4 linked regions of the Homo sapiens genome follow. The protein of the gene in region 4 binds, or shares a complex with, the protein of the main gene of each other region. Each region holds a gene or a part of one and is shown on either strand. Other genes may lie near its edges. A codon is read from its position in the direction of its gene.

Region 1 (7,025 bases), on a different chromosome or scaffold from region 4:
ACATTGGCCTTGAAGTAATAGATGGCTTCATCCACAATATCTGTATCTTTTGCTAAGCAGGACACAAGGGAAGGAGCACAGAGAACATTAGCCAAATACAAAACATAACAACTATCAAAGCCATAAAGGGAAAACACATACAACTGTCAACAGTTGTGGAGTTGAATAAAATAAAATGATCCTATTGAAATACAAAGTTTTTAGAAAATATTTATTTGTTTTTTTTTTGAGACAGAGTCTCGCTCTGTCACCCAGGCTGGAGTGCAGTGGCGTGATCTTGGCTCACTGCAAGCTCTGCCTCCCGGGTTCACGCCATTCTCCTGCCTCAGCCTCCTGAGTAGCTGGGGCTACAGGCACCTGCCACCACACCCCGCTAATTTTTTGTATTTTTAGTAGAGATGGGGTTTCACCATGTTAGCCAGGATGGTCTTGATCTCCTGACCGCGTGATCCGCCCATCTCGGCCTCCCAAAGTGCTGGGATTACAGGCATGAGCCACCGTGCCCAGCCTTTGTTTTTTTTTTTGAGACAGAGTTTCACTCTGTCGCCCAGGCTGGAGTGCAGTGGCGCGATCTTGGCTCACTGCAAGCTCCGCCTCCCGGGTTCACGGCATTCTCCTGCCTCAGCCTCCCAAGTAGCTGGGGCTATAGGCACCTGCCACCATGCTCAGCTATATTTTTTGTATTTTTAGTAAAGACGGGGTTTCACCGTGTTAGCCAGGATGGTCTTGATCTCCTGACCTCGTGATCCGCCCATCTCGGCCTCCCAACGTGCTGGGATCACAGGCATAAGCCACCGTGCCCGGCCAAATTTTTTTTTTTTGAGACGGAGTCTTGCTCCGTCGCCCAGACTGGAGTGAAATGGCATGATCTCGGCTCACTCTGCCTCCCGGGTTCAAGCGATTCTCCTGCCTCAGCCTCCCAAGTAGCTGGGATTATACGCATGTACCACCAGGCCTGGCTAATTTTTGTATTTTTAGTAGAAATGGGGTTTCACCTTGTTGGTCAGGCTGGTCTCGAACTCCTGACCTCGTGATCTGCCTGCCTCAGCCTCCCAAAGTGCTGGGATTACAGGAGTGAGCCACCACCCCCGGATTTTCAGAAAATATTTATAGAAAAGTAGTACATGGTTTATTTTTACAGCTTTATTGTTTTCGTAAAACTTATACATGCTCATTAGAAAATGAAATTCAATCAAAACAGTTTTATTTTTTAGAGAGAGGTCTTGCTCTGTTACCCGGGCTGGAGTGCAGTGGTACAATTATAACTCACCACAGACTTGAATTCCTGAGCGCAAGTGATCCTCCTGCTTCAGCTTCCCAGGTAGCCGGGACTACAGGCATGCACCATGAGGCCTGGCTAATTTTTTTCTTTAAAAATTAAATAAAATTTTTAAAGAAAAGTTTTTAAAGATGGCTGGGCACAGTGACTCACGCCTGTAATCCCAACACTTTGGGAGGCCGAGACGGGTGGATCACCTGAGGTCAGGAGTTTGAGAGCAGCCTGGCCAACATGGTGAAACTGCGCCTCTACTAAAAATACAAAAAATTAGCCAAGCATGGTGGCAGGCACCTGTAATCCCAGCTATTCGGGAGGCTAAGGCAGGAGAATCGCTTGAACTCGCGGGTGGAGGATGCAGTGAGCCAAGATTGCACCATTGCACTCCAGCCTGGGCAACGAGATCAAAACTCTGTCTCCAAAAAAAAAAAAAAAGTTTTTTTTAGAGATGCAGTCTCACTATGTTGCCTAGGCTGGTCTCAAACTCCTGGCCTCAAGTGATCCTCCTGCCTCCTGAGTAGCTAGGATTACAGGCATAAGCCACAGCACCAGGCAAAAAAAAAATTTTTAATTGTCACCTTAATTCCCATTTCCCCAAAAATAACTACCATTAGCATTTGGTGAACATTATTCAAGACGTCTCTCAATGCATTTATAAAAAAACACTGAGACATAGACTAACTTTAACTGCTTCCTAAAAATAAAAAGTATTCAGTCGGGCGCAGTGGCTCACGCCTGTAGTCCCAGCACTTTGGGAGGCTGAGGCGGATGGATTGCCTGAGGTCAGGAGTTCGAGACCAGCCTGGCCAACATGGAGAAACCCTGTCTCTACTAAAAATACAAAAACTAGCCGGGCATGGTGGTACGTGCCTGTAATCCCAGCTACTCAGGGGGCTGAGGCAGGAGAATTGCTTGAACCCAGGAGGCAGAGGTTGCAGTGAGCTGAGATCATTCCACCAAACTCAAGCCTGGGTGACAGAGCGAGACTCCATCTCAAAAAAGTAATAATAAAAAATATATATAATTAAATAAAATAAAAAGTATTCAATATAATTTTATTTGAATTTACATATTATAGTTTCAGAAAAAAACTCAATTATTTAGAACATGTTGAGGTTCAGATACACATCTTTCTTTTTATGAAAACTATGACTTAAAATATACTTGTACAAGCTGTTGTAGGTAGCTCTAGACGGACAAAAGCCAGAAATACTGTCTTGACAAAGACAGATCTCATGACACAATTTGTTTGGCAATTTTTTGTTTTTCTTCTTCTTATTTTAAAAAGGTCAAAATCCCAGGGTCTTGATATCTGGCAGTTGGTTTCAGCAGTGCTGAGACAGTTACTTATACTTCTTGTCTATGACTGTTAACGTTCTCGCACAGCAGAAATGCAAAGTAATCTTGAAGCTTTCATACTCTGCAATTCAGTTGTCTTCATCCCAGCTCATTGCCCTGTGGAAGAATTTCAACAGAACTCTAACTCTAGACTTGTGTTCCTTGCAATTTACTTTTTTTTTTTTTGAGATGGAGTCTCGCTCTGTTGCCCAGGCTGGAGTGCAGTGGTGCAATCTTGGCTCACTGCAAGCTCTGCCTCCTGGGTTCACGCCATTCTCCTGCCTCAGCCTCCCGAGTACCTGGGACTACAGGAGCCCGCCACCACGCTTGGCTAATTTTTTGTATTTTTAGTAGAGATGGGGTTTCACCGTGTTAGCCAGGATGGTCTCGATCTCCTGACCTCGTGATCCACCCGTCTTGGCCTCCCAAAGTGCTAAAGTACTGGGATTACAGGCGTGAGCCACCGCGCCACGCCCTATTTTTTATTTATTTATTTTTTCGAGATCAAGTCTCACTTTGTCGCCCAGGCTGGAGTGCCATGGCACAATCTAGGCCCAGTGCAACCTCCGCCTCCTGAGTTCAAGTGATTCTCCTGTCTCAGCCTCCCATGTAGCTGGGACTACAGGTGCCTGCCACCACAGCTAGCTAATTTTGGTATTTTTGGTAGAGACAGAGTTTCACCATGTTGGCCAGGCTGGTCTCAAACTCCTGACCTGAGGCAATCTGCCCGCCTCAGCCTCCCAAAGTGCTGGGATTACAGGCGTGAGCCACTATGCCTGGCTGCAATCTGTTTTCTTATCTGTGAAAGAAAACTGTCTTGGAGGACTCAATATTGTTTCCAAAAACCAGCTAGTTCTTCTAAATGCAATGACAGGAGGGGGCAAAGGCCAAAGGATTCTGAAATTAGAAGAATACTTGGCACATAAAAGGCATTCTACAGATATTTGTTGAATATAAATGAATTAGTGTGATTAATGCTGTTATTTAGCTCACAGCACAGGCCTCCATTCCAATTCAGGTTTTTTTTTTTTTTCTTTTGAAACAGAGTTTTGCTCGTTGCCTAGGCTGGAGTGCAATGACATGATCTCGGCACACTGCAACCTCCACCTCCCAGGTTCAAGCAATTCTCCTGCCTCAGTCTCCCAAGTAGTTGGGATTACAGGCATGCGCCACCATGCCCGGCTGATTGTTTGTATTTTTAGTTGAGATGGGGTTTCTCCATGTTGGTTACGCTGGTCTTGAACTCCTGAACTCAGGTGATCCACCCACCTCGACCTCTCAAAGTGCTGGGATTATAGGTGTGAGCCATCACGCCTGGCCTTTGCAGTGAAAAAAAATTTTTTTTTTTTTTTGAGATGAAGTCTCACTCTGTCACCCAGGCTGGAGTGCAGTGGTGCAATCTTGGCTCACTGCAACCTCCACCCTCTGTGTTCAAGCGATTCTCCTGTCTCAGCCTCCTGAGTAGCTGGGATCACAGGTGCCCACCACCATGCCTAGCTAATTTTTGTATTTTTAGTAGAGTTGGGGTTTCGCCATGTTTGCCAGGCTGGTCTCGAACTCCTGACCTTAAGTGATCCACTTGCCTTGGCCTTCCAAAGTGCTGGGATTACAAGTGTGAGCCACCGCACCCAGCCTTGTGATTTTCTTTTATGTTATTTTTCTTCTTTCCCAGGCTGTCTTCTTCCTTGTTCCTTTTCCTCAGAATCAAGTAGAGACTGTGGTGACTCACCATATGCATTAAGTTTACTGAGCTTTCAAATGGTGTTGAAAACAAAATTAAGTTTAAAAAAGGTCAAGTCAAACAGTCTGGCAGAGAAATGGGGACTGGATAAGTACCAAATTGGTAATTATAATAATGGTCTTGGAAACCATGAATGGAATTCAGTTCAGACCCTTGCAGGGTACAGGGAAACCATGTCTAACATAATACAAATTATACTGTTGGGAGAACATCTCAGAAAGCATCAGAAGAGTCTCAGACAGTGTCTGAAAAATATTGCGGCTTTCTGAAATAAAATTCAGAAAAGCGGGAATAGACGTAAGTAATGTTACATAGTACACTTCAGATTTAAGATTGAGGTATTGCTAAAAATGAAGATCTTGAAGAATGAATAAAGGAAGTAGATTTAGACGAGGAAGAGGTTAAAATATTTGTTGTTGTTCTTTTCCAGGTTGATGACAGAAAGGATGGGCATGTGGCATTCTAGACGTAACAGCATTAGATTTGTTTGAAAGAACTGATAAACAGTGTCCAGAATTAAGCACATTTCCTCCATTTTCTCAAAAGAGTTTCCTGGAGAAGTCAGAAGAAATAATACAATTTCCTATTAAATGCAACATATAACCACTATCTTGAAAGGTCTAGACCACAGTATCTACCAAGCAAAGTACAAGGGCAATTTGAGAGAGAAGACTGAGCTAAGAATTTTTCTGATTTGATCATTTCAGAAGATTGTTAGGCATTTCGTACCAAAATTTGAAAATAATGGGTTTAGACTTACTCTCTCTGGGGGCAGGTCCTTTGAATTGACTTCTGATAGGCAACAGTGCCATGTTTCCGATGAGTTTGGTATCAGGATCCATGAGAGAAGAGTGGTAAGCCTGTAATGGCAAGCCCAGGAAGAACACAGAAGCAGAAAAAGAGCAAATGTCACTGTGGCAAACAACCTTCCCTTAAAGGAAAAAAAGAGTAAACCACCCAAGATTAATTAGGGGAGGGAGAAGGGATAGCAGCATTGAGGTGCGAGGGCTGGTTCTTTCTGGCTCAAGAAAACCAATTGTTAAATTTTGAGGCATTTTTCAAGCTGGTTGTTAAACACAGCTCTTCTCAAAAATCAAATTATATAAACTTACAATTAAGTAAATGATGTTGGCTGGACGTGGTGGCTCATGCCTGTAATCCCAGCACTTTGGGAGGCTGAGGCAGGCAGATTGCCTGAGCTCAGGAGTTTGCAACCAGCCTGGGCAACACAGTGAAACCCCATCTCTACTAAAATATAAAAAATTAGCCAGGCGTGGCGGCGTGCGCCTGTAGTCCCAGCCATGTGGGAGGCTAAGCTGGAGAATCACTTGAACCCAGGAGGCGAAGGCTGCAGTGAGCCGAGATCGTGCCACTGCACTCCAGCCTGGGCAACAGAGCAAGACTGTCTCAAAAAAAAAAAAAAAGTAAATAATGTTAAAAACAATGATGCTTAAGTATTCATCACTTCTTTTTTTTTTTTTGAGAAGGAGTCTCACCATGTTGCCTAAGATGATCTCAAACTCCTAAGCTCAAGTGTTCCTCCTGCCTCAGCCTCCCAAAGGGCTGGGACTACAGGTGTGAGCCACCACACCTGGCTACTTCCTAATTTTTTTTTTTTTTTTTGAGACAGAGTTTGGCTCTTGTTGCCCAGGCTGGAGTGCAATGACATGACCTTGGCCCACTGCAACCTCCGCCTCCCGGGTTCAAGTGATTCTCCTGCCTCAGCCTCCTGAGTAGCTGGGATTATAGGGATAAGCCACCACGCCCAGCTAATTTTGTATTTTTGGTAGAGACGATGTTTCTCCATTTTCGCCAGGCTGGTCTCGAACTCCCGACCTCAGGTGATCTGCCCGCCTTGCCCTCCCAAAGTGCTGGGATTACAGATGTGAGCCACTGCACTGCACTTGGCCTACTTCCTAATTTTTTTTTTTTTTTGAGACGGAGTCTTGCCCTGTCGCCCAGGATGGAGTGCGGTGGCGCGATCTCTGCTCACTGCAACCTCCGCCTCCTGGGTTCAAGCGATTCTCCTGCCCCAGCCTCCCAAGTAGCTGGGATTACAGGTGCGTGCCACCACGCCCAGCTAATTTTTGTATTTTTAGTAGAGACAGGGTTTCACCATGTTGGTCAGGCTGGTCTCGAACTCCTGACCCCATGATCCACCCGCCCCGGCCTCCCAAAGTGCTGGGATTACAGGCGTGAGCCACTGCACCCGGCAATAACCTAATTTTTAAAAATTACATTTTACTATTGTCTATGTTCTTAAGGTTATTATTACGAAATACTAAATAATGGGGTGCTGCTGTGCATCTCTTCCAATTCTATGTTCGGTGACATCACATTGGTATCTGGCCAAAGTATTTCCACTACAGAAAGACAAACATCATATAAATCAGGGTACCCAGCCCCCAGCTAAACCAAGACCCAAGCACTATCTTTTCAGCTCTGCCACTTCATGGCGTTATGCTTTTGACCAAGACATCATTCTTCTTCTCTTAGCTTGTTTCCAAATTTGTAAAATGAGAAGATATATATTCCCTTCAGTGGGTAGGTGTGTGTTAAAGGAAGGGATAAAAAAAATCACATTTATGAGAGCATTTTGTATGCTGATTCTTAGTTCTGCTTTTTACAAGATGTCTGGCTTTTTATAAGTCAACATGGGTCCCATTCATA
Region 2 (7,025 bases), on a different chromosome or scaffold from region 4:
TGAATTGCCTGGAAGTGTTTTAAAGTGGGAATCTAGTCAGGTGAAGATCGAAAGCAAACAGAAGTCGCTGTGAGTAGGTAAGTACAAGAAATAGATTTGAGGTGAAAGAAAGAGAATTTTGGAGGCTGGGAGTGAATGACTGCAGCTGCTAAGCTACTTTGCACTTTCTAGTCTAGGTCTTTGGGCAGTGATACTACATATAGGTATTCAGCTGCCATCCAGAAGGCTATGGAATCACTCCAAAGGCTTCAGTAGTGCTCTGACATCATTCATGACTCTCTTCTCTATCATCTTATATCTATATAGTCTTATAAAAACCCTACCAAACTGTTCTTGTTAAGAGTACAGTACTTGGTGGTAGAAGCAGAAAACCTTTCCTCTTAATTAACCATACATTCATAATTGTTAAAGTCAGAGAAAAATAAATTATTCAACACTGACATTTTATTTTCTGAAGTTTTATCATTTTTACAAAACAAAACAAAATGAAACAAAAAGCAGGTATCAAAAACAGCAAAGAGTTTATAGAATTTCTGCACCAGTTTGCACATAAGTCAGTGATTACAAAACTGGCATCCAATGTAAATACTAAGCACAAGCTCACTTCCCTCTTGGTCAGGTGGTTTGTTTTAGAGCTACTCGATATTTATAACTTTTTATAAGCACCGGTCATTTTTTGAGAACTGATTTGGTTTGTCCAACAAAGTAAACAATTTTTTGCTGTGTGGCAGTTTCTTTTTTTAGAAAACACTGAGCTAAAACACAGAATGTGTATTTGTTTGGATCTGAACCAAATCTTTTGAGATCCCAACTACCCTGAAGAACACTGAAGACATTTACGGGGCATATTAAATGGTATCTTAAATACTAGTTGTATACCTCATAATGTCTAAGGCAGCTATTATATTTCTAAAGAAAGTAGCATTTCATTCAGAGGCTGCCCAGAGTTTAAATTACACCATAGTTTTTCTTTCTTTCTGCAAATCATTCTTTCTGATTTGCAGTTTTTTCCAAACAGAGCCATATTAGTGGAACAAAAGTTTGATGTTCATGCCCAACAAGCTCTGATATTTTATGGATACATTTGTATAAAGCAAGACTTCTTGCTCTGAACCCTGGGTGACCACAAATAAATTGAGGGGCCATGATTATTGGATGCTGAGAGAAAGTAGCATACTTAAACCCACAGTACAGATAATCAGGAGGCAAGCAAAAACAAAGCTATAACTTAGCAGTGGTATTCACCCACCACTTATTCCAAAAACATATTTTGCTTATTAAATAAGGGAAATATGGTCCAGTTTTGCAATGTTAATAGCTGCCAGTCTCTCATATTTTTTATAAATATCATTTCCTGACTAGCAATGAGCTAGGAAACTGGCCTCAAATTCTGACCAAATCTCTCAGTATTAGTTAAAAATAATACAAAACAAAACAGAACAAAAAACCAGCCAACAGGGGTTAAAAGTTGCACAATTAAACTTGAATGTAAATTATACTATATACAGATTGGTATAAACATCACTGAAATGGTTTTGAAAGGATGAAACACTTCTATTTTAACACAATTTCTTCTATATTATCCCAATTTTCATTAAAGGACAACTGATATGTAATTTTTTTCTTTACAGATATGAAAAAGCAAGAAGGCAAAGCTGAGAGAAACAGATGCTACCCACAGGGCAGCGGTGGCATTTGGTTGTTTTGGTCTTTGTACCAGCAATTCCCACTCCCGAGGCAGATAATCCACTTCCTGCCAGACTACACAGTTTTTCTTGCAGTCAAGACACGAACAATGGACCCTACTCCTCCAGCAGCAAGTGCCTAAAAACAAACCAAGATGTAAATGTTGACAGAATAATAAAAGGTCAATTCTCATATTTGGTAAAACATTTTTCTTAAAGAAGGAATGGGCACTGCTATAGACCCTGAATTTATTAGTTAACAAATAATAAATTCTTGAGCACCAATTATGCACCAGGTACTGTTCTTGGCACTGAGGTTACAGTAATAAACAAAACCTTGAAAGTCCCTGCCCTCATGAAGTTACATTCTAGTGAGATACTAGTTTACATTTTAGTACATTAATTCTAAATAATGTTTTAAAAAATCTGCAGCATAGGCCGGGCGCGGTGGCTCACGCCTGTAATCCCAGCACTTTGGGAGGCCGAGGCCGGCGGATCACGAGGTCAGGAGATCAAGACCATCCTGGCTAACATGGTGAAACCCCGTCTCTACTAAAAATACAAAAAATTAGCCGGGCGTGGTGGCGGGTGCCTGTAGTCCCAGCTACTCGGGAGGCTGAGGCAGGACAATGGTGTGAACCCAGGAGGCGGAGCTTGCAGTGAGCCGAGATTGCGCCACTGCACTCCAGCCTGGGCGACAGAGCAAGACTCCGTCTCAAAAAAAAAAAAAAAAAAAAAAAAAAAAAATCTGCAGCATAGTGTTCCTGCTCAAAACAGGTGGACATTCTGCATTTCTCATTCTCACCACATAGTCAGAAGAAAATTCAAACTGGGATCAACCATCCCAACTTCCACTTCGATTAGTCAGCCTTTGTCAGATTTTTTTTCTCCCAAAGAAAGAAGGTATTGTTTAATAGCTAAGAACTTAGAAACTTTAACTCTGACTCTAATTTGAAAAATAGAGAGTAATGATCAAGTATTAGGAATCTGAGCTCTGGTTTCTTTCTGTTCAAAAAATATTTATGGAATACCTTTGTATACTGAGTACTGTGCTAGATGCTGGGGATACAAAAGTGAACAAATACAGCATTTTCTGGTCTAGCATGAGGAGACAGACATATAAACAGGTAATTTTAATCTAATGTATGAAATGAGAGTTGTGCTGCAGGTGCTATTAAAGCACCAGGGAGAGGCTTATACCCAGATTAACAGTATAGAGGAATGTTTCAGCTAAGGCTTCATGGAGGAAATGACACATTAAAAGAATGAGTAGGTGACAGGCTAACACCAGAAAATCATGAGCAAATGTATGGAGGTGTGAAACAATATGGTGCATTCAGGAAAAAGGCTGGCATTGCTATAGCCTGAGGGGAAGAATGACATGGAAGATGAAGCTAGACTTGGGAACTTTGACTTTATCCTGCAGGTGACTGACAAGGGCAATTTTGATTTTAAAGATATCATTTTGATGGCTGGGTGGAGAACAGATTTGAAGGAGGCAAAACTGTTAACTGGGAAACCAGTCAGGAAGCTATGGCAACAGACTGGGAGAGATGCTGTGAACAGCTGCATTAGATACGCTTGAACAGATAGATTTCAGAAATACTTCGAAGATTGGTAAAAACTGGTGACTGACATTTGGAAGAAATGAAGACTTCACACATGCCTCAGTTTCCTCAGTGACAAAAGAGGAATAATAGCAAGCATTTCCCTCCATTTTTATGAGGATTAAATGAGTTAATATTTATAAAGTCCTTTGAAGAATATGTGGAATATAATAAGTAATCAATGTTCACTGCAATCTTGAGGCTATGCTAGAACTACGCTGCTTGGGTTTTAAAGCTAGCTTTTCATCTGTAAATTGAGGATGATAAAGATATTTATATACTTCACAGGGTTGTTGTAAAGGTTAAATAAAACATTAATAGTATGGTACCTGGCAACAGAAAGTGTTCCATGAATAGGGTGCCATATAAATTACTACCCAAATTGGTGCATTTTAGAGTAAAAGGGGGAACTATTGTTTTACTATGTGCTTTTTTCTTATGTTTGTGTTTTCACTCAGATACACTTCAAACACTCAATATTTTTATGACTGGTTCTATTTACATGTTATCCAGTTTTTTACCCAAAGCTCAAAATCACTTATACTCTTTTGACAGATGATGTACCAGCATCTACTTACATTGCAAAATATACACATGAAAATAGAAAAACATGATTTAAGAATTCTTGATCCTCCAAACTCCTAATTCTTTAAAAAAGTTGTAAAATATCTAACACAAAATTTGCCATTTTAACCATCTTTAAGTGTAAAATCCATTGGCATTAATTATATTCACAATGTACTGTAGCCATCACCACTATCTGTTTCCAAAACTTTTTTACCACTCCAAGGAGGAACTCTGTACCTATTAAGCACTAACTCCCTATTCCTTGCTTTCCCTACTTCCTAGTAACCTCTAAGGACTTTCTGTCCCTTTGTGTTTGCCTATCCTAGATTATTTCATATAAGTAAAATTATAAAATATTAGTTCTTTTGTGTTTGGCTCATTTCACTTGGTATGTTTTCAAGGTTTATTAATGTTATAGCATGTGTCAGAATGTCATTCCTTTTAATGGTTGAATCATATTCCATTGTATGTATGTACCACAATTTAGCTGTTCATCTGTTATGATCCTTGTGTTGTTTTCACCTTTTGGTCACTGTGAAAGAATTCTTGATTTGTATTGCTTATTTTCTTTTACAAAGTTTTGATTTAATTCAGAGTTCAAGATTATGTTTAATTACTAATAATCATTGTTGAATAAACACAAGTGTTGGAATCAGAATCTCTTAAGACCAAGGCTAGTAAACATAAATATGAACTATCCTTTTCATGCATTTTATTTGTAATAACAAAAATGTACAACAAATCAAAATGGTTATTTAGGTGAGAGAGGTTGTCATTGTCATTCCCTATTGTAAAAGAACCAGTCATATAGATTTATAATTCATAACTTACCTTTTCATGCCATTGCAGTAACATAGCACTGCTATTGTCAGACGGGCTCTCAAATCCTTTATAAATATACTTCATTAGGAGATCCACACCATTCTTGTCCAGAGATTGAACTGCCTTTTCTATATCATTAGCTTTAAAAGAGATGAGCACCTTCAAGACAATGCTGCCTGCCCGGTCCTGGTGGGTCAATAAATAACAGAACATTTAGACATATCTGTATGAGGAGGGTTTAGAATTTCAGAAAGTCTACACTATGAATGTGACATTTGAGTAAGGACCTGAAGGACGTGAAAGAAGGCTTGGGATAACTGAGGAAAGTGTTTCAGACAGAGGAAAGAACAGTGCTATTAGTGTGTGTTCAGTGTGTTCCAGGAACAGAAAAAAACCCAATGTGGTTGGAGTGGATTGGTGGGAGAAAAGCACGTGAGTAAGTCAGAGGTTATGGGAGGACAGATCGTGTAAGGCCTACAGGCATTGTAAGGAGTTTGGCTTTTACTGAGAGAAATGAGAAGACATTGGAAGGTTTTAAGAGCAGTGCCATAATCTGACTCACATTTTAACAGGATTGCTTTGGCATCTATGTTACAGAAAATAAGCTGTGGGAGTAGGGGATAAGGTAGAAGCAGGGAGAGCAATTAGGAGGCAATTGCAATAATACAGGCTGGATGTGGTAAGCATAGTAGCAGTGGAGGTGGTAAGAAACTAGACAGACTATTAACATAATTGAAGGCAGAGCTGAGAGGATTTGCTAACAGATCAATGTGATAATTTAACAATTTATTAAAACAACATTTAAATTTATGTCTTGATCTTAAAAAAAAAAAATCCCAACAAAACGGCCGGGTGTGGTGGCCCACAGCTGTAATCCCAGCACTTTGGGAGGCCGAGATGGGCAGATCACCTGAGGTCAGGAGTTCGAGACCAGCCTGGCCAAAATGGTAAAACCCTGTCTCTACTAAAAATACAGAAATTATCCAGGCATGGTGGTGTGTGCCTGTGATCCCAGCTACTCGGGAGGCTGAAGCAGGAGGATTGCTTAAACCCGGGAGGCGGAGGGTGCAGTGAGTTGAGATTGCACCACTGCACTCCAACCTGGGTGATAGAGTGAGACTCCGTCTCAAAAAAAAAAAAAAAAAAAAAAAATTCCCAACAAAACAAGGAGGCAGATTTGCAGTTTCACCTTGAATTATCCTTCAGAAGTAATTTTTTCTTAAAAACTTTTTTATTTAAAAATTTTAATAAACCAAGCTGTCTTAAAAGAAAATTGACTGTAATTTATATGAATTGACTGTAGATATGAAATATAGTGATGTTCATTAATAATGATCTTTTTTCTTTGGCAAAAGCCTGCTTCAAAAGCAGTTATTTTCTTACCCATCCGGCCAAGCAAAGGAAACACTTAACTGACCTTTTCAACAATTCGTTTCTCCTTCCATTCAACACAAAGTGATACCTCCAGCATTCCTACTGGTCAGGATTTCACAGAATGTTTCTACCACCTACTGTTATCTTTGGTTTAAAGACTGCAATTACCAGATTTAGAAAAATATCTTTGCATCCACGGTAAAAATGAAATTTCAACGACAATCTTTACAACTTGTAAAAACCAAAGAAATTTTCCCCAATAAAAAATTATGTTACCTAGATAATTATTATGCATTTACCTAAGTTATTACTTACTACTATTCAATTGAGATTCTTGAAGCTCCTAGGATGTATGAATAGCTATGGACAACGGGGTTGATGCTATGGGCATCATTTTAAATAAATACGTAAATAGGTTAAGAATTAGTAAAAGACTGCAGAGAATGTAAGTTGCACAACTGTTCTGAAGGGCAATTTGGCAATACTGCATACCAAAAGCCTTAAAAAAAAGTGCATTCTTTGATCCAGTAATTCACTGCTAGCAATTTACTCAAAGAGAACAATTAAAAATTTACCAAAAAATATTGATTTCAGTGGTTTACAATAGGAAAAAAAAAGTCAGTCTAAATATATAACAAAAGATTAGTTATGTATACACTGCAGCTTATCCATATACAAGTGTTAAAAATGCTATAAACTTATTGCGAAGGAAAGCTCATGTACATTGCATATAGCTGAAAAAGCACGTTATAAAATTTCATTCTTAAAAAAACAAAAGGGAACTCTGTAACAATACAGCAAGGCCCCAAAGTAGTAACTGTTATCTCTGGGTGCTGGGACCACAAACCACTATCTTTTTAACCTTCTCATATGTCTGAGCTTTCTATAATAAGTATTTAGTATTTGTATGGTTTTAAAAAATCTTTAAAAAGCAATTACAATCTGTTTATTTTTGTAAAGGTTTAACTTA
Region 3 (7,025 bases), on a different chromosome or scaffold from region 4:
TTCCTCTCGAGTTCAAGTGATTCTCTTGCCTCGACCCCCCGAGCAGCTGGGATTACAAGTGCCCACCACCAAGCCCAGATAAATTTTGTATTTTTAGTAGAGAGGGTTTTACCATGTTGGGCAGGCTGGTCTCAAACTCCTGACCTCAGGTGATCCACCTGCCTCCGCCTCCCAAAGTCTGGGATTACAGGTGTGAGCCACCGCACCCGTCGGTTGATAGGTCTTTTCTAATATTAATAATTACGTAGCATCTCAACATGTTAATGTCATAATTTACTCTTTCCATATTGTCACCTGGGTTTTTCCACACTGTCACCATTATAAAGACAGCTATTATAAACATGTTTGCTTTATTTTTTAGATGAGGTTTCACTCTGTCACCCAGGCTGGAGTACAGTGACGAGATCTCGGCTCACTGCAACCTCCACCTTCCCAGCTCAAGGAATCCTCCAGCCTCAGCCCCTCAGATAGCCAGGACTACAGGCGTACAGCATCACATCCCGCTAATTTTTTTTTTTTTTTTGGTAGTTTTTATAGACACAGGGTTTTGCCATGTTGCCCAGGCTGGTCTCCGAACTCCTGGACTCAAGTGATCCACCTGGCTTGGCCTCCCAAAATGGTGGGATTACAGGCGTGAGCCATGGCACCCCACCTGTTTGCTTTTAAAAAAGAAAAATGGGGCCAGGCGTGGTGGCTCACACCTGTAATCCCAGCACTTTGGGAGGCCGAGGCGGGTGGATCACAAGGTCAGGAGTTCGAGACCAGCCTGTCCAACATGGTGAAACCCCATCTCTACTAAAAACAAAAACAAAAATTAGCTGGGCGTGGTGGTGGGCACCTGTAGTTCCACCTACTGGGGAGGCTGAGACAGGAGAATTGCTTGAACCTGGGAGGCGGAGGTTGCAGTGAGCCGAGAATGCACCACTACACTCCAGCCTGGGCGACAGAATGAGACTACATCTCAAAAATAAAAAAGAAAAAGAAAGAAAAATGTGTTGCTGTTTTCTTAGGACCAAATGGGTGTATGTGACCAAAGAATGTTAATTTTCTTTTTCTTTTTTTTTTTTTTTTTTTTGAGATGGAGTCTTGCTCTGTCCTCCAGGCTGGAGTGCAGTGGCGCAATCTCGGCTCACTGCAAGCTCCGCCTTCCGGGTTCACGCCATTCTCTTGCCTCAGCCTCCCGAGTAGCTGGGACTACAGGCGCCCGCCACCACGCCCGGCTTAATTTTTTGTATTTTTAGTAGAGACGGGGTTTCACCGTTTTAGCCAGGATGGTCTCGATCTCCTGACCTCGTGATCCACCCACCTCGGCCTCCCAAAGTGCTGGGAGTATAGGCGTGAGCCACCACACCTGGCCAGAATGCTAATTTTCAAGTTCCTGTTAGTGTTATTCTGTTCTATTAATATTTGGTCCCACCCACTTGTTGAATTGAGTGCCCTTCAGAAGAATTAAACCAATTAGCAACAAATGACAATTTCTCCACAGCTCTGCTAGCATTGAATTTTGTGTGTTTTTGTTTTGTTTGGATGACTAACCGGTGCTTTAATGGTACCTTACGATTGTTTTCATGTGTGTTTCTTGACTTCACTCTGCGTGGTTGGTAAGACTTCAAGAGCAGAGCTGGAGAGGGAAGGATAGGGGTAGGAAGGGCTCTGACCCAGCATAGGAAGTTGAGTAACCGCTTAGCACGGTGCAAATTAGCCTGCTGGCTGCTCTATCCAAGAACTGCCTGAGCTGGGTGGGGACTTCCCAGAGCGCCTGTAATGCTGAGATCTTTCCTCCAGGCAACTCCTCCTTGGTTTAGCCTCTGATACAGCCAAACCTCTGGATTCAGGGAAACCTAAGGAAGCCAGGCAAGAAGGGTCCCGCAGCCTGTGCCTAGTCTAGCCCCAGCCTCATCTGGATTAAGATGGGAGGGAAATATTGGCTGAGGGCACCCAGCCAGTATGAAGACAGCTAGAATGTAAACCCAGCACAGTAAGGGAGAGAGTATCAAGGCCCAGGACTTTAGAGTGCCTCACCACCACCACCCCGCCGCTGGGCAGCCTGAGGCTTTCTTTGCCTGGCACCACCATGCCTGGCTAATTTTTTTTTTTTTTTTCCAAGTGGAGACGGGGTTTTGCCATGTTGGCCAGGATGGTCTCAAACTCCTGACCTCAAGTGATCCACCCACCTCGGCCTCCGAAAGTGCTGGGATTACAGGCGTGAGCCACTGTGCCCGGCTATCCCCTCCTCTCTCTGGTTTCTTAACATCAAACAGGCCCACAGTGCTGGCTCACAGGGCCACAGTGATAGTGGGTTGGTGTCCTGGATCCCTCCCCCAGGAGCCATCACTGAGACCTTATGCTGTCAACACTGGTGGGTGAAGCAGCCCTCGTATTTTTCTCCTGAGACATCCAGAGCAGGGTAATTGGCAGGCGGGGGTGAGCACACGCTGGCTCACGCAGGCTTGGTAGGTGAGAGGTTTTCCTGAGGATGATGAAGTTGGAGTGTCCCCGGCTAGAATCCCTGAGGCAGGAGACTGGAGCCCTGTGGCAGCATTGGCTGAGAGAAGCCACTCCCTTTTTGCTCTCCCACTTCCTCACTGGTAAGATGTGGGGGTTGGGGAGTTATCGCAGAGGCGCTTTGGGTTTCAGCTGCTTTGCAGAAGTTATGGAAAAAGGGAAATGAGTCTTCCTGTCTCTCGCCCCCTTAACACTTCTTTGCCCCATTTAAGGGGTTTGTTCAACAGACTAGGAAGTATTTCTGCTAATTCATGCTGAAGTGTGATTGGCTGATAGGTGTGGTCTCAACCTCCCTCCTCTGCCAGTCACTAGTGTACCACTGTGGCCATCTTTTCCAGCCCCTCCTCTGCCCCTTGAGTATGTCTAGGTCCTAGAAACAGTGGTCAGGGCTCTTCAAGTCCTCTCGGTTGCCCTTGCCCACTGGCACACGTGGGGGTTGCTGTCTTCAGCAGAGCCAGCCACTCCGTCTTGACAGCCAGGGCAGAGATGTGGCTGGGCACACAGCAAGAATGTGACCACTGATGCTGGGATGTCAGAGTCTGTGCATCAACCCAGGGTTCTGAGTCTGGGCTCTCCCACCCTCATCCCCGGAGGTTCCTTCAGTCTGGGCCTCCTGGGGCTGAAAGGGAGGGAAAAATTGGCCTCAGCTGGAGTCCTGGGGCCAACCAGAGCCTGGGTGGAGTGTGAAAGTGGGCTTCTGGCCTTCACCCTGCCCCTGCCCTGCTGGTGACCTTGGACCATGGGGGTTGTCGGGGTGTAGATGAGCACCGTGAATCAGTCACAGGCCTTGAGCTTCTCTCTGCACAGTGCTGGCATCAGATGTGGGTGGTGATGTCCCAGCCTGGGAACACAGGAAACGCTCAGGGAAACCCCCATCAGACCTGCTGACATGGCTGAGGGCGCTGAGATGGTGCTTCCGGGGCCCTCACCTTACACAAAGAGGCCTTATAAGGAGAGAGAGGCTGCAGAGGCAGCCCCAGTGGGTGCCGGGTGCTTGTTCTGGGTAAGGCTGCCCACACGTGCAAAGTGTGCTTGTGGACACAGTGCGCTTGCGTGTGTGCAAGGCTGAACATACATGTGTGCAGGCCTGCAGTGTGCCTGTGTGTGAGGCTCAACACGTGCATGTGGGGAGTATGGTCATGTGTGCAAGGCTAAACATGTGCTTAAAGTGTGGGGAGGTGCAGTGTGCATGTGTGTGTGCAAGGCTTAACATGCAAAGTGTGCTTGTGTGTGTGAGGCTGAACACGCATGTGTTTGTGTGCGTGGCCTGACCCTGCGCTGCGTGTGTCTACTTGCTCAGCAAATGCTGACTGGGGACCCACCGGGGTCCTGTTCTAAGCATGGAGGAAACATGAGGTCCCTGCCCCGTGCATGTACACATGTGCATGTGTGTGTGTCCTGTGCTGCTCCAGGAATCTTCCAGGACATCCTGATACAAGTGAAAGCAAGCGGTTTGGATCTGGAGTGAGCAGGAGGTGGACAGGGCCTTCCAGGCAGTGAGCGCAGGGGGCTTTGTGTTGTGACCTCGGGCAGGCTGGTCACTGAGCCCTGTGGGGCCAAACTGCAGCCCCAGGCAAAGGTCGTTCTGCCTTTCCCTTGTGCCTGGGCCCAGATGCAGTGCAGGATGGGCCGGCCCCTGGGCAGGGCAGTGACGGGGCAGCCACCGGCCTCCTGGGGCATTCAGGGTTCCCAGTCCTGGTTGGCTCCCAGCCCAGGCCCTGAGACCCAACACAAAACTGCCAGTCTGGTGAGGGAGGCAGCCACATTATCTAATGGCTGTCACTGGTGACTCTGGGCAGGTGGCCTCAGCCCCCACATCTGTCATCTGGAGCTGACCTGGAGCCTGGCATCCCTCCCCAAGTGCAGCCAGGCCTCCCTGAAAGTCCAGGGCTGGTGGGAGTGTTGAAGTCAAGAATGTATACAGAGCACCTGGCCAGGCGCGGTGGCTCATGCCTGTAATTCCAGCACTTTAGGAGGCCGAGGCGGGCGGATCACTTGAGGTCAGGAGTTCAAGACCAGCCTGGCCAACATGGTGAAACCCTGTCTCTACTAAAAATATAAAAATTAGGCATGGTGGTGCGCACCTGTAATCCCAGCTACTCAGGAGGCGGAGGTTGGAGTGAGCCAAGACTGCGACATTGCACTCCAGGCTGGGCAACAGAGTGAGACTTCATCTCGAAAAAAAAAAAAAAAAAGGATACTTTTTTTTCTAGAGCTGGCAAGGAGGGAGTATCCAGAAAGTGCTGGATGGTACTAGTTAATACATTTTATTTTAGAGACAGGGTCTGGCTCTGTCACACAGTGGTACAATCATAGCTCACTGCAGCCTCAAACTCCTAGGCTAAGCAATCCTCCTGCCTCAGCTTCCTGAATACCTAAGAATACAGATGTGCACCACCACACCTGCAAATTTTTTTATTTAAATTTTTTGTAGAGATAGGGTCTCACTGTATCGCCCATGCTTGTCTTGAACTTCTGGCCTGAAGCAATCCTCCTGCCTAGGCCTCCCAAAGTACTGGGGTTACAGGCATGAGCCACTGCGCCTGGCCCTATTTAATAAAATTATTTATTTATTTATTATTTTTAAGTTATTTTTTCACACACATTCATTCCTAACCTTTTTTTTTTTTTTTTTTTTGAGACAGAGTCTTGCTCTGTTGCCCAGGCTGGAGTGCAGTGGTGTGATTTTGGCTCACTGCGACCTCTGCCTCTCAGGTTCAACAGATTCTCCTGCTTCAGCCTCCCAAGTAGCTGGGACTACAGGTGTGCGCCACCACGCCCAGCTAATTTTTGTATTTTTAGTAGAGACAGTCTTTCACCATGTTGGCCAGGCTGGTCTTGAACTCCTGACCTCAGGTGATCCGCCCGCCTCGGCCTCCCAAAGTGCTGGGATTACAGGCATGAGCCACCGTGCCTGGCCTCATTCCTAACCTATGTAATGATAATATTTTTGAGGGCTGGGTAGGGTGGCGTGAGCCTGTAGTCCCAGCTACTTGGGAAGCAGAGGCAGGAGGATCACTTGAGCCTGGGAAGTCGAGGCTGCAGTGAGCTGTGATCACACCACTGCACTCCAGCCTGGGCAACAGAGCGAGACCCTTTCTCAAATATACACACACACACACGTTTCTGAGAACGTACTCTGTTGGTCACTAATGGCAATGAAAAATTTGTTCAGCGGATATTTCTTGAGCACCTACTATGTGCTAAGCATTTAAGCAGTGGAAATAGAAACGAGAACAAGATAGAACAAAAATGTGTCTCTGCCAAGCTGGTTCTATTCCAGCAGGGGAGGAAGGCAGCGGGCCAGATCAGTGAGTGCATGTCTGATGGTGACTGCTGAGAAAATTTAATCGGAAATAGGGAATTACGAAGTGCCGGACCGTGGAAGGTGCTGCAGTTTCCAGGGAAGGCCTCCCCAAAAGTTGACATTTGAGTACAGACTTGAGTGGCAGCACCAGAGCGAGAGCCGTGTGTGCCGGTATCTGGGGGAAGAGTGTCACAGGCCTAGGGAACAGCCAGCACGGAAGCCCGAGGCAGGTGCATGCCTGTGTGCCCCAGGATTGGCCTCTGGTTGGCTGGGGAGGCCTGCTCCTCAAAGGGCTGGTATATCACATCCATCACAGGCTAAGAGTAACCGCCTCGTGGTTCCTCCTCATAGAGGCCAGGTGCGGTGTGTCATCTGCTTCCAGCTCTCAGCATCTCTGCTGGGAGGCAGGATTCCTGTTCCCATTTTACAGATGAGAAAACTGAGGTTAAAAGAAGGCAGGTGATGTGTCCCGGGGCATGTGGCTGGGCAAGCAGTGCCACTGGGCTCCTCCACTTCCAGGTCCCTGTGATGCTGGGAAACTGAGTCACGGAGGCGGGGAGAGATGTGTTTGAGGAATTGGGCTGAGACCGTGATCTCACCCCCGTCAGGCCTGGTGGGCTCCTTTGACACTCAGCGGCAGGTGGAGGAGGCTAGGGACAGGCTGGCAGGGGCTGAGCTGGGCTGACGGGAGGATGAGTCGCTGCCCTCTGCCAGGGTTCCCCTTCAGTGCTGGGGCTAGTCTAGAGGGCTGCAGTCAAACATCTCCCTCGTTCTGGCCGAGTGTAGTGGCTCACACCTGTAATCCCAAATACTTGGCAGGTGAGGAGGGAAGATCTCTTGAGCCTAGGAGCTTGAGACCAGCCTGGACAGCATTGTGAGACCCCCCTCTCTACAAACAAATCAAAAATTAGTTGGGCACAGTGGCACATGCTTGTAATCCCAGGAGTTCATGGCTGCAGTGAGCCATGATCACACCACTGCACTCCATCCTGGGCCACAGAGAGAGACCCTGTCTCAAGAAACAAAAATCTCCCTCCTTCAGTTCCCCAAGGCTGGGTCACCCTGGGGCCTCCCCAAGAGCCATCACCCAGGCCTCGCCTAGCCCTGTGCCTCCTCCCAGCCCTGGGTGCAGCCAGTGGATGTCTGGATGGAGAATGGGATGTATCTGTTAAATATCTGCCTTTGCCTCAGCCATGAGCCCCTGCAGACCGGC
Region 4 (7,439 bases):
ATGTGCCCCAACTGTATTTTACAATGCTTTCCAATACAGACCAAAAAAGTGTGTAGATAAGGGTATCAATGTGAATGAAGCATTTCTTTTCAAATTCTTTTCAAAATAAGTATTCTCTTTTATGACCTGAATCTAGGTGATTCATATGTTGAGTTTTGCTGGACGATCCCTAAAAGTTTTGGGCTTAAGTTTCAAGTTTCCTAACTCTTAACAGCTTTCCTATCTAAGACGATCAAGTTTTACAGATGGCCACTTTTTTTCAGCCACCTTTCCCCTAATTTATATAATGAATGAAATGAGCAACCTGATTCAGGTTATAACTTTTTACTTAAACTAAGTGAGTAATTGTAATTTAGAGACCTCAGAGCTGAATGCATTCTCTAAAGCATAAAAAAAATTAGACAAATTACAGGTGCACAATTTGCATTCGGGGACCACAGAATTTTGAAATGTAAAAGCTCCCTGTTAAGGCCATACTTAGAGATGTTTATCTCAGGGTCCTCAACCTCAAGGACTTATCCTCCATGTGCAAATAAAGCTGAAGGTGTAACTTCCCAGGAGGCACCACTGGAAACTTGTAAGACCAAAAAGGCTTTTGAGAACCAAAATAACTGAAACTCTAAAGGGGGAATTTCAGATTGTGACAAATGGTAAAAGAGAGTGAGGTGGCAAGGGGACTCCTAATCAGTTCCATTCAAATCATCAATGTGCAGTTAATAACCTCTCCTTATTGGAGAAACCAATGTAATAACTTAAAAATACACTATTGTGATAATCGTAATTTTAAAACAGAAATAGCCTAGGTTAAATTGAACCCCTCTTCCCGATCCTACTGGTCATTCAGCATGTTTTAAATTCAAGGTTGCCCTTTAGGAAAGGAGGTCACTTAAGGACAGTTTATCTCAATGAAACATCTTGTATACTAATTCGAAACTATTTCAAAAGGGGGAAAATGGAGATTAGAAAAGTAACATACTACTTGAGATGTTACCATATTATTTCTCAGGGCCACAATTATTTACACTATTTTTTTGAAAACGCAGTAATTTCTAAAGCATTAATTATGTAGCAATATTCGTCACTTTAACAAAACACATTTGAAAAGTCCTATCCTACTGACTCAGGCCAAATCTAATTTTAAAACTGAACCTAGACATAAAAATACTCACCAATTAGACTAAGAAGGGAGAAATAAAAAAAATTATTGGTTCAGAGAAATGAGACTGAATTAAGGAAAAACTTTTAAATAAAGTGTTCATCAAAAAAATACATAGAAGTTCCAAGGCTAGTGTTTTCCTAGGAGAATATTAAGAAGTTGGTGGTTTCTCTCTACCTAACTGGGATTTTAGAAACTGCCACACTAGCTAGTTATGAGAATGAAGATTAAAGAAATTTCACATAAAGAGTGAAGGACACACAATCTTTTAAGTAACAATAATGAAATCAATAATTATAATTAATAATAAAAAAAAAAGCCTGACAGTCCACCTCTTACTGACTTCCCCCTCAAAAAAAAAAAACTGGGAGTGTTCTGGGAATTGGAGAGATGTCATCAGCACAGAAAAAAAAACCACTTTCCTATATGTCATCCTGAAGCAGTGATTCTACATAAAAATAAGGGTAGTCTATTCTCTATGCAGTTATGAGTGTGGTACAACTCTCTAAAACGTCTATTAATACAAAATGAACGACCACACTTTAAAGCCACTCTACATTTTCGCAAACTACCCTACATATCTACGAGTAACTATTTGCAACTTAAACACCCTCCTATATACCTCTATACCTTCCTGCTTCCTTCAAGATACCATCACAGAATGAACGAATACAACTTAAATTAGTTTATTTTCCAGGGTGCTTCCTTTCCCCCACTCCATGAAACATAAGTACATTTTTTTAAGTCATATAAATGGACACCAAGCACCGGTAATTCAGTCTCTTTAAAACCTGCTTAAAAGTTCTAGTAAGATGTGCTCAGGTTGGAAACTAAAAACTACCTTATAAGGGTATAAAAGACTGAAAGCAGGAAGCGGCTTTGACAAAACTAAGGAAGTTGCAGCGCGCTTGCTCACTGGGGGACTTTTTTGAGGCTACAGAAGTAACACATGACATCTTTCTCCCTCGAATTAAAATGTGACTTGGTTCACCGGTTAAAACGCAGAGGGAGATGGAAATGACCAGGAGTCGAAAGGAGAAGGTGGGTGGTCAAATGAAAGCCCCACTGTAGGTTCCCATTTTCAGAGTCCGATTCTTCCCTTTCCCCACCCACACCCTGGGCAGAATGTTGTCACAGCGATCTTGTCAAACCTACCAGGAGCGCTTCTCTTTTCTAGCTCCCCTGCCAGGCCAGTCCCCGAGCTCGGCCCCTGGGTCCCCAAACCGACTGGCAAAAACGGGCGCGGAGGGAAAGGAAAGCCGGATGGGTCGGGCCCGGGGACCACCCCCAAGACGACCGTCCCCAGCGCCCTTTGGGCGGCGCTGCCCACCGTAGTGGGGGAAGGGCCGGGAGGGGTCGCGCGGAGAAAGCCGCTGGGAGGGTTGGGGGTTGAATCTCGGGCCCGCGCCCCCGCCCCAGTCCCAGGAGGGAGAAACGAGGGGACCCGCGAGGCCCTGGCTGCGGGCCCCACCCCTCGCTGGCCGGCGGGTCTAGGACTGACAGCCGGCGGCGGCACCTCGCCGCACCATTCATTTCCCGGCCTCCTCCCTCCCCCGCCATCTTCCTTCCTCCGCCTCAGTTTCCCCACCCCCGCCCGTAAGCCCCCTTACCCCGTGCCACAGTCCACCACACAGGCCGGCAGCCGTCCCGCCATCTTCCTCCTCGCCTGCTGCTGCTGCTGCCGCCGTCTGCTCCGTGCTGCTAGGGGCCAGAGATTGGCGGCGGGAGACAAGGGCTATCTGACCATCCACAGCTGGGCCGCCTTCACCGTCCGGGGGGTAGCCGGGAAGCCGAAGCAGTAGCAAGAAAGCAGCAGGCTCGGTCGGCGGCTATCACTTCCGCAACCCAGGCAGGCAGGCAGTCCCCGCCCTGCCCCGCCGCGGCCTCCTCCCCCTCTCTCTTCCCTCCTCCTCACTCCTGCCCCCACCCTACAACTTCTTCCCCTCACGCCGCCTTTCCCCGGGAAGCCAAGATGGCCGCCGGTGCCGACGCCCCGGCCAGGCCAGGCCCAGGCCCCCAGCGCTCCCCCTTCCGCTCCGAGCGGGAGGGGCTAGCGAGCATGCGCAATAAGGTACGTTCGCCTGCCTGGGCTCCGATCCTGAAGTTGGTGAAATCCACTGCGGGTTTTCCAGGAGTGTAGAGGCGGAGAAGTCTATCCGAGCTTCCAGTTCTGCTTCTGAAGCTGGAAGGGGCTTTTCGGTTGTAACCCTTGGGTTAGTTTCAGTTACTTCTTTGCTAGGTTGAGGAAAGGGTGGAAGCGCCTCCTGCAGCCACGAATATCCTCCAGTGCCTGAGAGAAAACGGCCTAATCGAAAACGTCCGCGGCATACATCCATTCTTAAAACTTGAGTGGCTGCTTTTCTGGGTGGAAAAGAGCGGTATCAGACAGGGTGAGCAGTCGGGGAACGGATGAACAAAGACTTGCACCGTGGCCCTGATGCCTTTGTTCCGAGTTCTATTCAGTTGTACTTGTGCGTTGTTACAGGACTTTAGAATGCAGCCCTGCCCCCCAACCCCCACCTCCCAGGGCCGACCTGTGCTCCTAGGAAGGCAAACCTCCCAGGAATATATTCTGCATAACTATACAAATAGGCCTTTATTCAAGGCTTTTGGATTATGACAAAGATTACCCTCAGGAGTAGTAAGATTCTACTAGCAGGATAATAGAAAGGATTAAGGCTCCCCTCCAAAGAAAATTTTTTTAAGTTAGAAACGGAGGCGAGCCGCAGTGGGTCATGCCTGTAATTTCAATGCTTTGGAAGGCCGAGGTGGGAGGATAGGATAGCTTGAGGCTAGGAGTTCGAGACCAGCCTGGGCAACATGGGGAGACCCCCCCCCATCCCTCCAAAAAAGAAAAGAAAACTGGAAAGCCTTAAAGAAACCTTTCAAACTTTAGTGTGTATCAGAATTACCTGAAAGGTTTGTTAAAACAGATTGCTGGGCCATACCCCCAGAATTCTCTGACTGGGCTATCGGAAATAATGCCTGAGAATGTGCATATCTAATAAGTTCCTAGTTCCACTTTAGGACCCTAGAAGGTTAGTATCTTTCCTCTCTACCAGGCTTATCTTAGGATGAACCGTTCGGGGTTTGCTGATGTGAAGCTAAAACAAAAATATTCTTTAAAAGGAGGGATGTCTTATTCAGTCCATAAGATCATCTAATGTATTAAGCTGGCTTGGGGGATGAATCGGGTGTTTCATTCATTCATTTGACAGGTAAGCATTGCTTACCTACTCTATTATGACGGGGTCTGTGCTGACTCCGAATATTCGGTGGGATGCAAAATAGTTAAGTGCTCTTGTAGAGTTTACAGATTAGCGGAAAACAGACAAATTGTGTTAAGAGCAATAGAAAGAAGAGAGCGGAGGACTCTGAGAAATGAAGGCGAGGAGTGGGAGAATGAGAGGAAGGTGGAAGGCAGGTAAGGAGTCTGACCAGCTGGTATTTAAAAGCTAAGATGGGGGGAAGAGTCTCCCAGGAGAGTGAACAGCAAGTGTCAAGGACCTGAGGCAGGAACAAGCTTGGCTTCTTCCACAAATTGAAAGAAGATCCATATGAAAGAGTCAGAGAAGATGCAATGGGAGATGAAGACTGAGAGATAAGGAAGAGTGAAACAGTGCAAGAATTTGTAGACTGCTCTAAGCATTTTAAAGTTTATCTTAAAAGCAGCTTGATAAATTAGATTTATGGTAATTAGTTTAAAAATAAAAATAAAGCAACTTGAAAGGATTTAGGCAAGAAAAAGTTGTGTCTGCTTTGTAGAGAATGGCTCCAGCAGAGTCCAGATTGAATCATACATTGTATGATATTCTGTGTTCCGGAGTTCGCAGATAGAAGTATGTGAGGGCCAGCATCCAAATGGAATCAGGTATGTGCAGAGGAGACTCACTAAAGGGCATCATCATCAATTAGTGCCCAGCATGTCTGCAGCTATTCACGAGAGAAGGCTTTTTTTAGAGGTTGTTTTCAGAGAAGTCAAACAACTGGTTGTCTCAGATTCGTTGTCGTTGGTTTCTCCACTACATTTTAGAAGATGCTAGATGGGGACTCTTTGCTGCCGCTTCTACTACCTGGTAATTAAAGTCTTTTGAGGAAGCATATGCTTGAAGATTGGCTCTGACAGAAAAGACAGATGTGGTTTAGTAGGGGTAGAATAAATGGTTGTTTCCAGCAGTTACAAGTAGTAAGTCAGGAGTGAAGAGATCCTACCAAAGAAGTTTCGAGAGCAGAGGTTAGTGCCCTCGGTCACTTGGGCAGCCCATGCCGGTGGCCCTCAAGGTAGCTGCCCACACTCTGGCCTTGCACAGTTGTCATGGAAGTAGTTAACTCAAGCAGGGTTGGAAACTAGTGCTTCGAGGTCTAGGCAGGTACTGTTATGAGTGAAGGGGGCCATGAGGAGGGTATGGCAATGTGAGAGCCCACAACCCAACAGAAGGCAACAGACAACTGTTGCCATGTGGAAATACAGCCCTGGTATTGCCAGAGCCTTTTTTCTTCCCCAAGAGAAATCTGAAATCTGCATTTTTATCTTTGGTAACTGTAATGGTTTGAATGTGTTCCCCAAAGTTCATGTGTGAGAAATATAATTTCCAGTGCAACAGTGCTGAGAGGTGGGAGCTTTAAGAGGTGATTAGGCCAGGAGGACACTGTCTTCATGAATGAATCACAGGACTGGGTGCCTGATAAAAAGGAGTTTGCCCCCGCTTCCCTCTCTCTCTTTTGCCCATGTGATGCCTTCCACCATGTTTTGACACAGCAGGGACGCCTTCACGAGATGATGGCCCTTTGATCTTGGACTTCCCAGCCTCTAAAACTATGAAAAATAATTTGTGTTCTCTATAAAGTACCCAGTCTCTGATATTCTGTAAGCAGCACAAACTAGGCTAAGATAGTAACTAATTTTTTTCTGCATGTCATATCTGACCTGTGGTCTGCCAGTTTGCATCTTTTGATTTCGGAAGCTACATGTGGTTCAGTAGTTTGCTGCCTTCAAATATGAAGCTCATGTCAGTGCTAAGTACTGTCTCTCATTTCATAGGCATGAGGAAACTGTCACAGTCTCACATAGTCAAGACTGTCCTGTGTTTGTACAGGCAGTAACTGTTAGAAGCATTTGGAAGCTTTCAGTGCTTGTTGGAAATGTCATTGGTGCTCATTCCTCATAATCTTGTCTACCCAAACACTTTGCTTGCTTAAGATCCCTTCTACTTCCTGCTTGCTGCATGCCAAATTGGTCAGCCTCTCTGCTACTGTGGTGGCCCAGCCTTCCTCAGCTGCACATAGCCTTCAGTCACACATCCGGCCAAAGCATTTCTGACCACCCTGTTTGCATATGCACCCACTCCCTGCTTACTCATCTCCAAACACAGAAGCAAAGGATGTCAGAGACAGTTCATCCTTCATTTCATATTTGTCCCTAATAGCACCTCAATTTCCTTTCAGTTCAGGTCAACCCGGTCCTTGGTTCTTACCCATTTCCAAACCTGTTCCGAAACTTTCAAGCATTTGTGAGTCTTGCAGTATCCTTCTCCTGTGGCTCAAGTTAGCCACAGCAAGTTCCCATTACTTGCATCAAATTTGAGAAGCCTTAGTGGTACAGAAGCCCATAGAGTTTAAGTGAGTTTTCCCAATATCTTTTTCTTTTTTTTTTTGAGATGGAATCTTGCTCTGTCGCCCAGGCTGGAGTGCAGTGTAGTGCGATCTCGGCTCACTGCAAGCTCTGCCTCCTGGGTTCATGCCATTCTCCTACCTCAGCCTCCTGAGTAGCTGGGACTACAGGCGCCCGCCACCATACCCGGCTAATTTTTTTTTTTTTTTTTTGTATTTTTTGTAGAGACGGGGTTTCACTGTGTTAGCCAGGATGGTCTCAATCTCCTGACCTCGTGATCTGCCCGCCTCGGCCTCCCAAAGTGCTGGGATTACAGGTGTGAGCCACCACTCCCGGCCCCCAATATGTTAAAGAAACTAAGGAACAGAAGTCCAAGTCAAAATCCAGTTCTTACGCCTTTTGGGGGGCTCTTTAATTGTAACGACAAATTAGCAAATTGTCTTTGGATCTTAAAAAGTGTCCAGGAAATTTATGTCACTCAATTTCCATTATTTTAAGATGAGAAATAGTATTTTAAAAATCAACTTAGGTACGTACTACAGGGCTGACTGTTTGCAAATTGGCAGATGAATCAGATTCACAGAGAGCCTTAATTCAGAGCAGGTAAGTTGTAAAAGTACCCCAAGCAGCCTAGTGGTCAGAGGGGAGGGACTGTGAAAACTGTCTTCTCTC

Evidence for each region.
Region 1: the proteins of ACTR3 (region 4) and ARPC3 are in contact, whole or in part, in a cryo-EM structure (PDB 6YW6), measured with the Homo sapiens proteins. Residues at the interface, in NP_005712.1 of Homo sapiens: Phe203, Gln206, Asp210, Arg211, Glu212, Leu238, Val239, Phe242, Asn243, Ile253, Asp270, Gly272, Tyr273, Glu286, Phe287, Pro290; in NP_001265485.1 of Homo sapiens: Tyr47 (codon at 20), Tyr48 (codon at 17), Lys50 (codon at 11), Ala51 (codon at 8), Phe54, Phe55, Lys56, Lys158, Trp159, Thr161, Cys162, Phe163, Val164, Lys165, Arg166.
Region 2: ACTR3 (region 4) and ARPC5 share a complex: the UniProt entries of both Homo sapiens proteins name them as parts of the arp2/3 complex.
Region 3: ACTR3 (region 4) and ARPC1B share a complex: the UniProt entries of both Homo sapiens proteins name them as parts of the arp2/3 complex.

Annotation. Positions count from the first base shown.
Region 1 is NC_000012.12:110,440,337-110,447,361, forward strand, and holds part of ARPC3 (actin-related protein 2/3 complex subunit 3), read right to left. Parts: intron 5,216-7,025; coding exon 5,116-5,215; intron 53-5,115; coding exon 1-52. UniProt on the Homo sapiens protein: Component of the Arp2/3 complex, a multiprotein complex that mediates actin polymerization upon stimulation by nucleation-promoting factor (NPF).
Region 2 is NC_000001.11:183,625,771-183,632,795, forward strand, and holds part of ARPC5 (actin-related protein 2/3 complex subunit 5), read right to left. Parts: intron 4,868-7,025; coding exon 4,691-4,867; intron 1,825-4,690; coding exon 1,762-1,824; 3' UTR 1-1,761. UniProt on the Homo sapiens protein: Component of the Arp2/3 complex, a multiprotein complex that mediates actin polymerization upon stimulation by nucleation-promoting factor (NPF).
Region 3 is NC_000007.14:99,377,720-99,384,744, forward strand, and holds part of ARPC1B (actin-related protein 2/3 complex subunit 1B), read left to right. Parts: intron 1-7,025. UniProt on the Homo sapiens protein: Component of the Arp2/3 complex, a multiprotein complex that mediates actin polymerization upon stimulation by nucleation-promoting factor (NPF).
Region 4 is NC_000002.12:113,885,651-113,893,089, reverse strand, and holds the start of ACTR3 (actin-related protein 3), read right to left. Parts: upstream 3,002-7,439; 5' UTR 2,811-3,001; coding exon 2,767-2,810; intron 2,493-2,766; exon of another isoform or gene 2,312-2,492; intron 2,198-2,311; exon of another isoform or gene 2,098-2,197; intron 1-2,097. UniProt on the Homo sapiens protein: ATP-binding component of the Arp2/3 complex, a multiprotein complex that mediates actin polymerization upon stimulation by nucleation-promoting factor (NPF).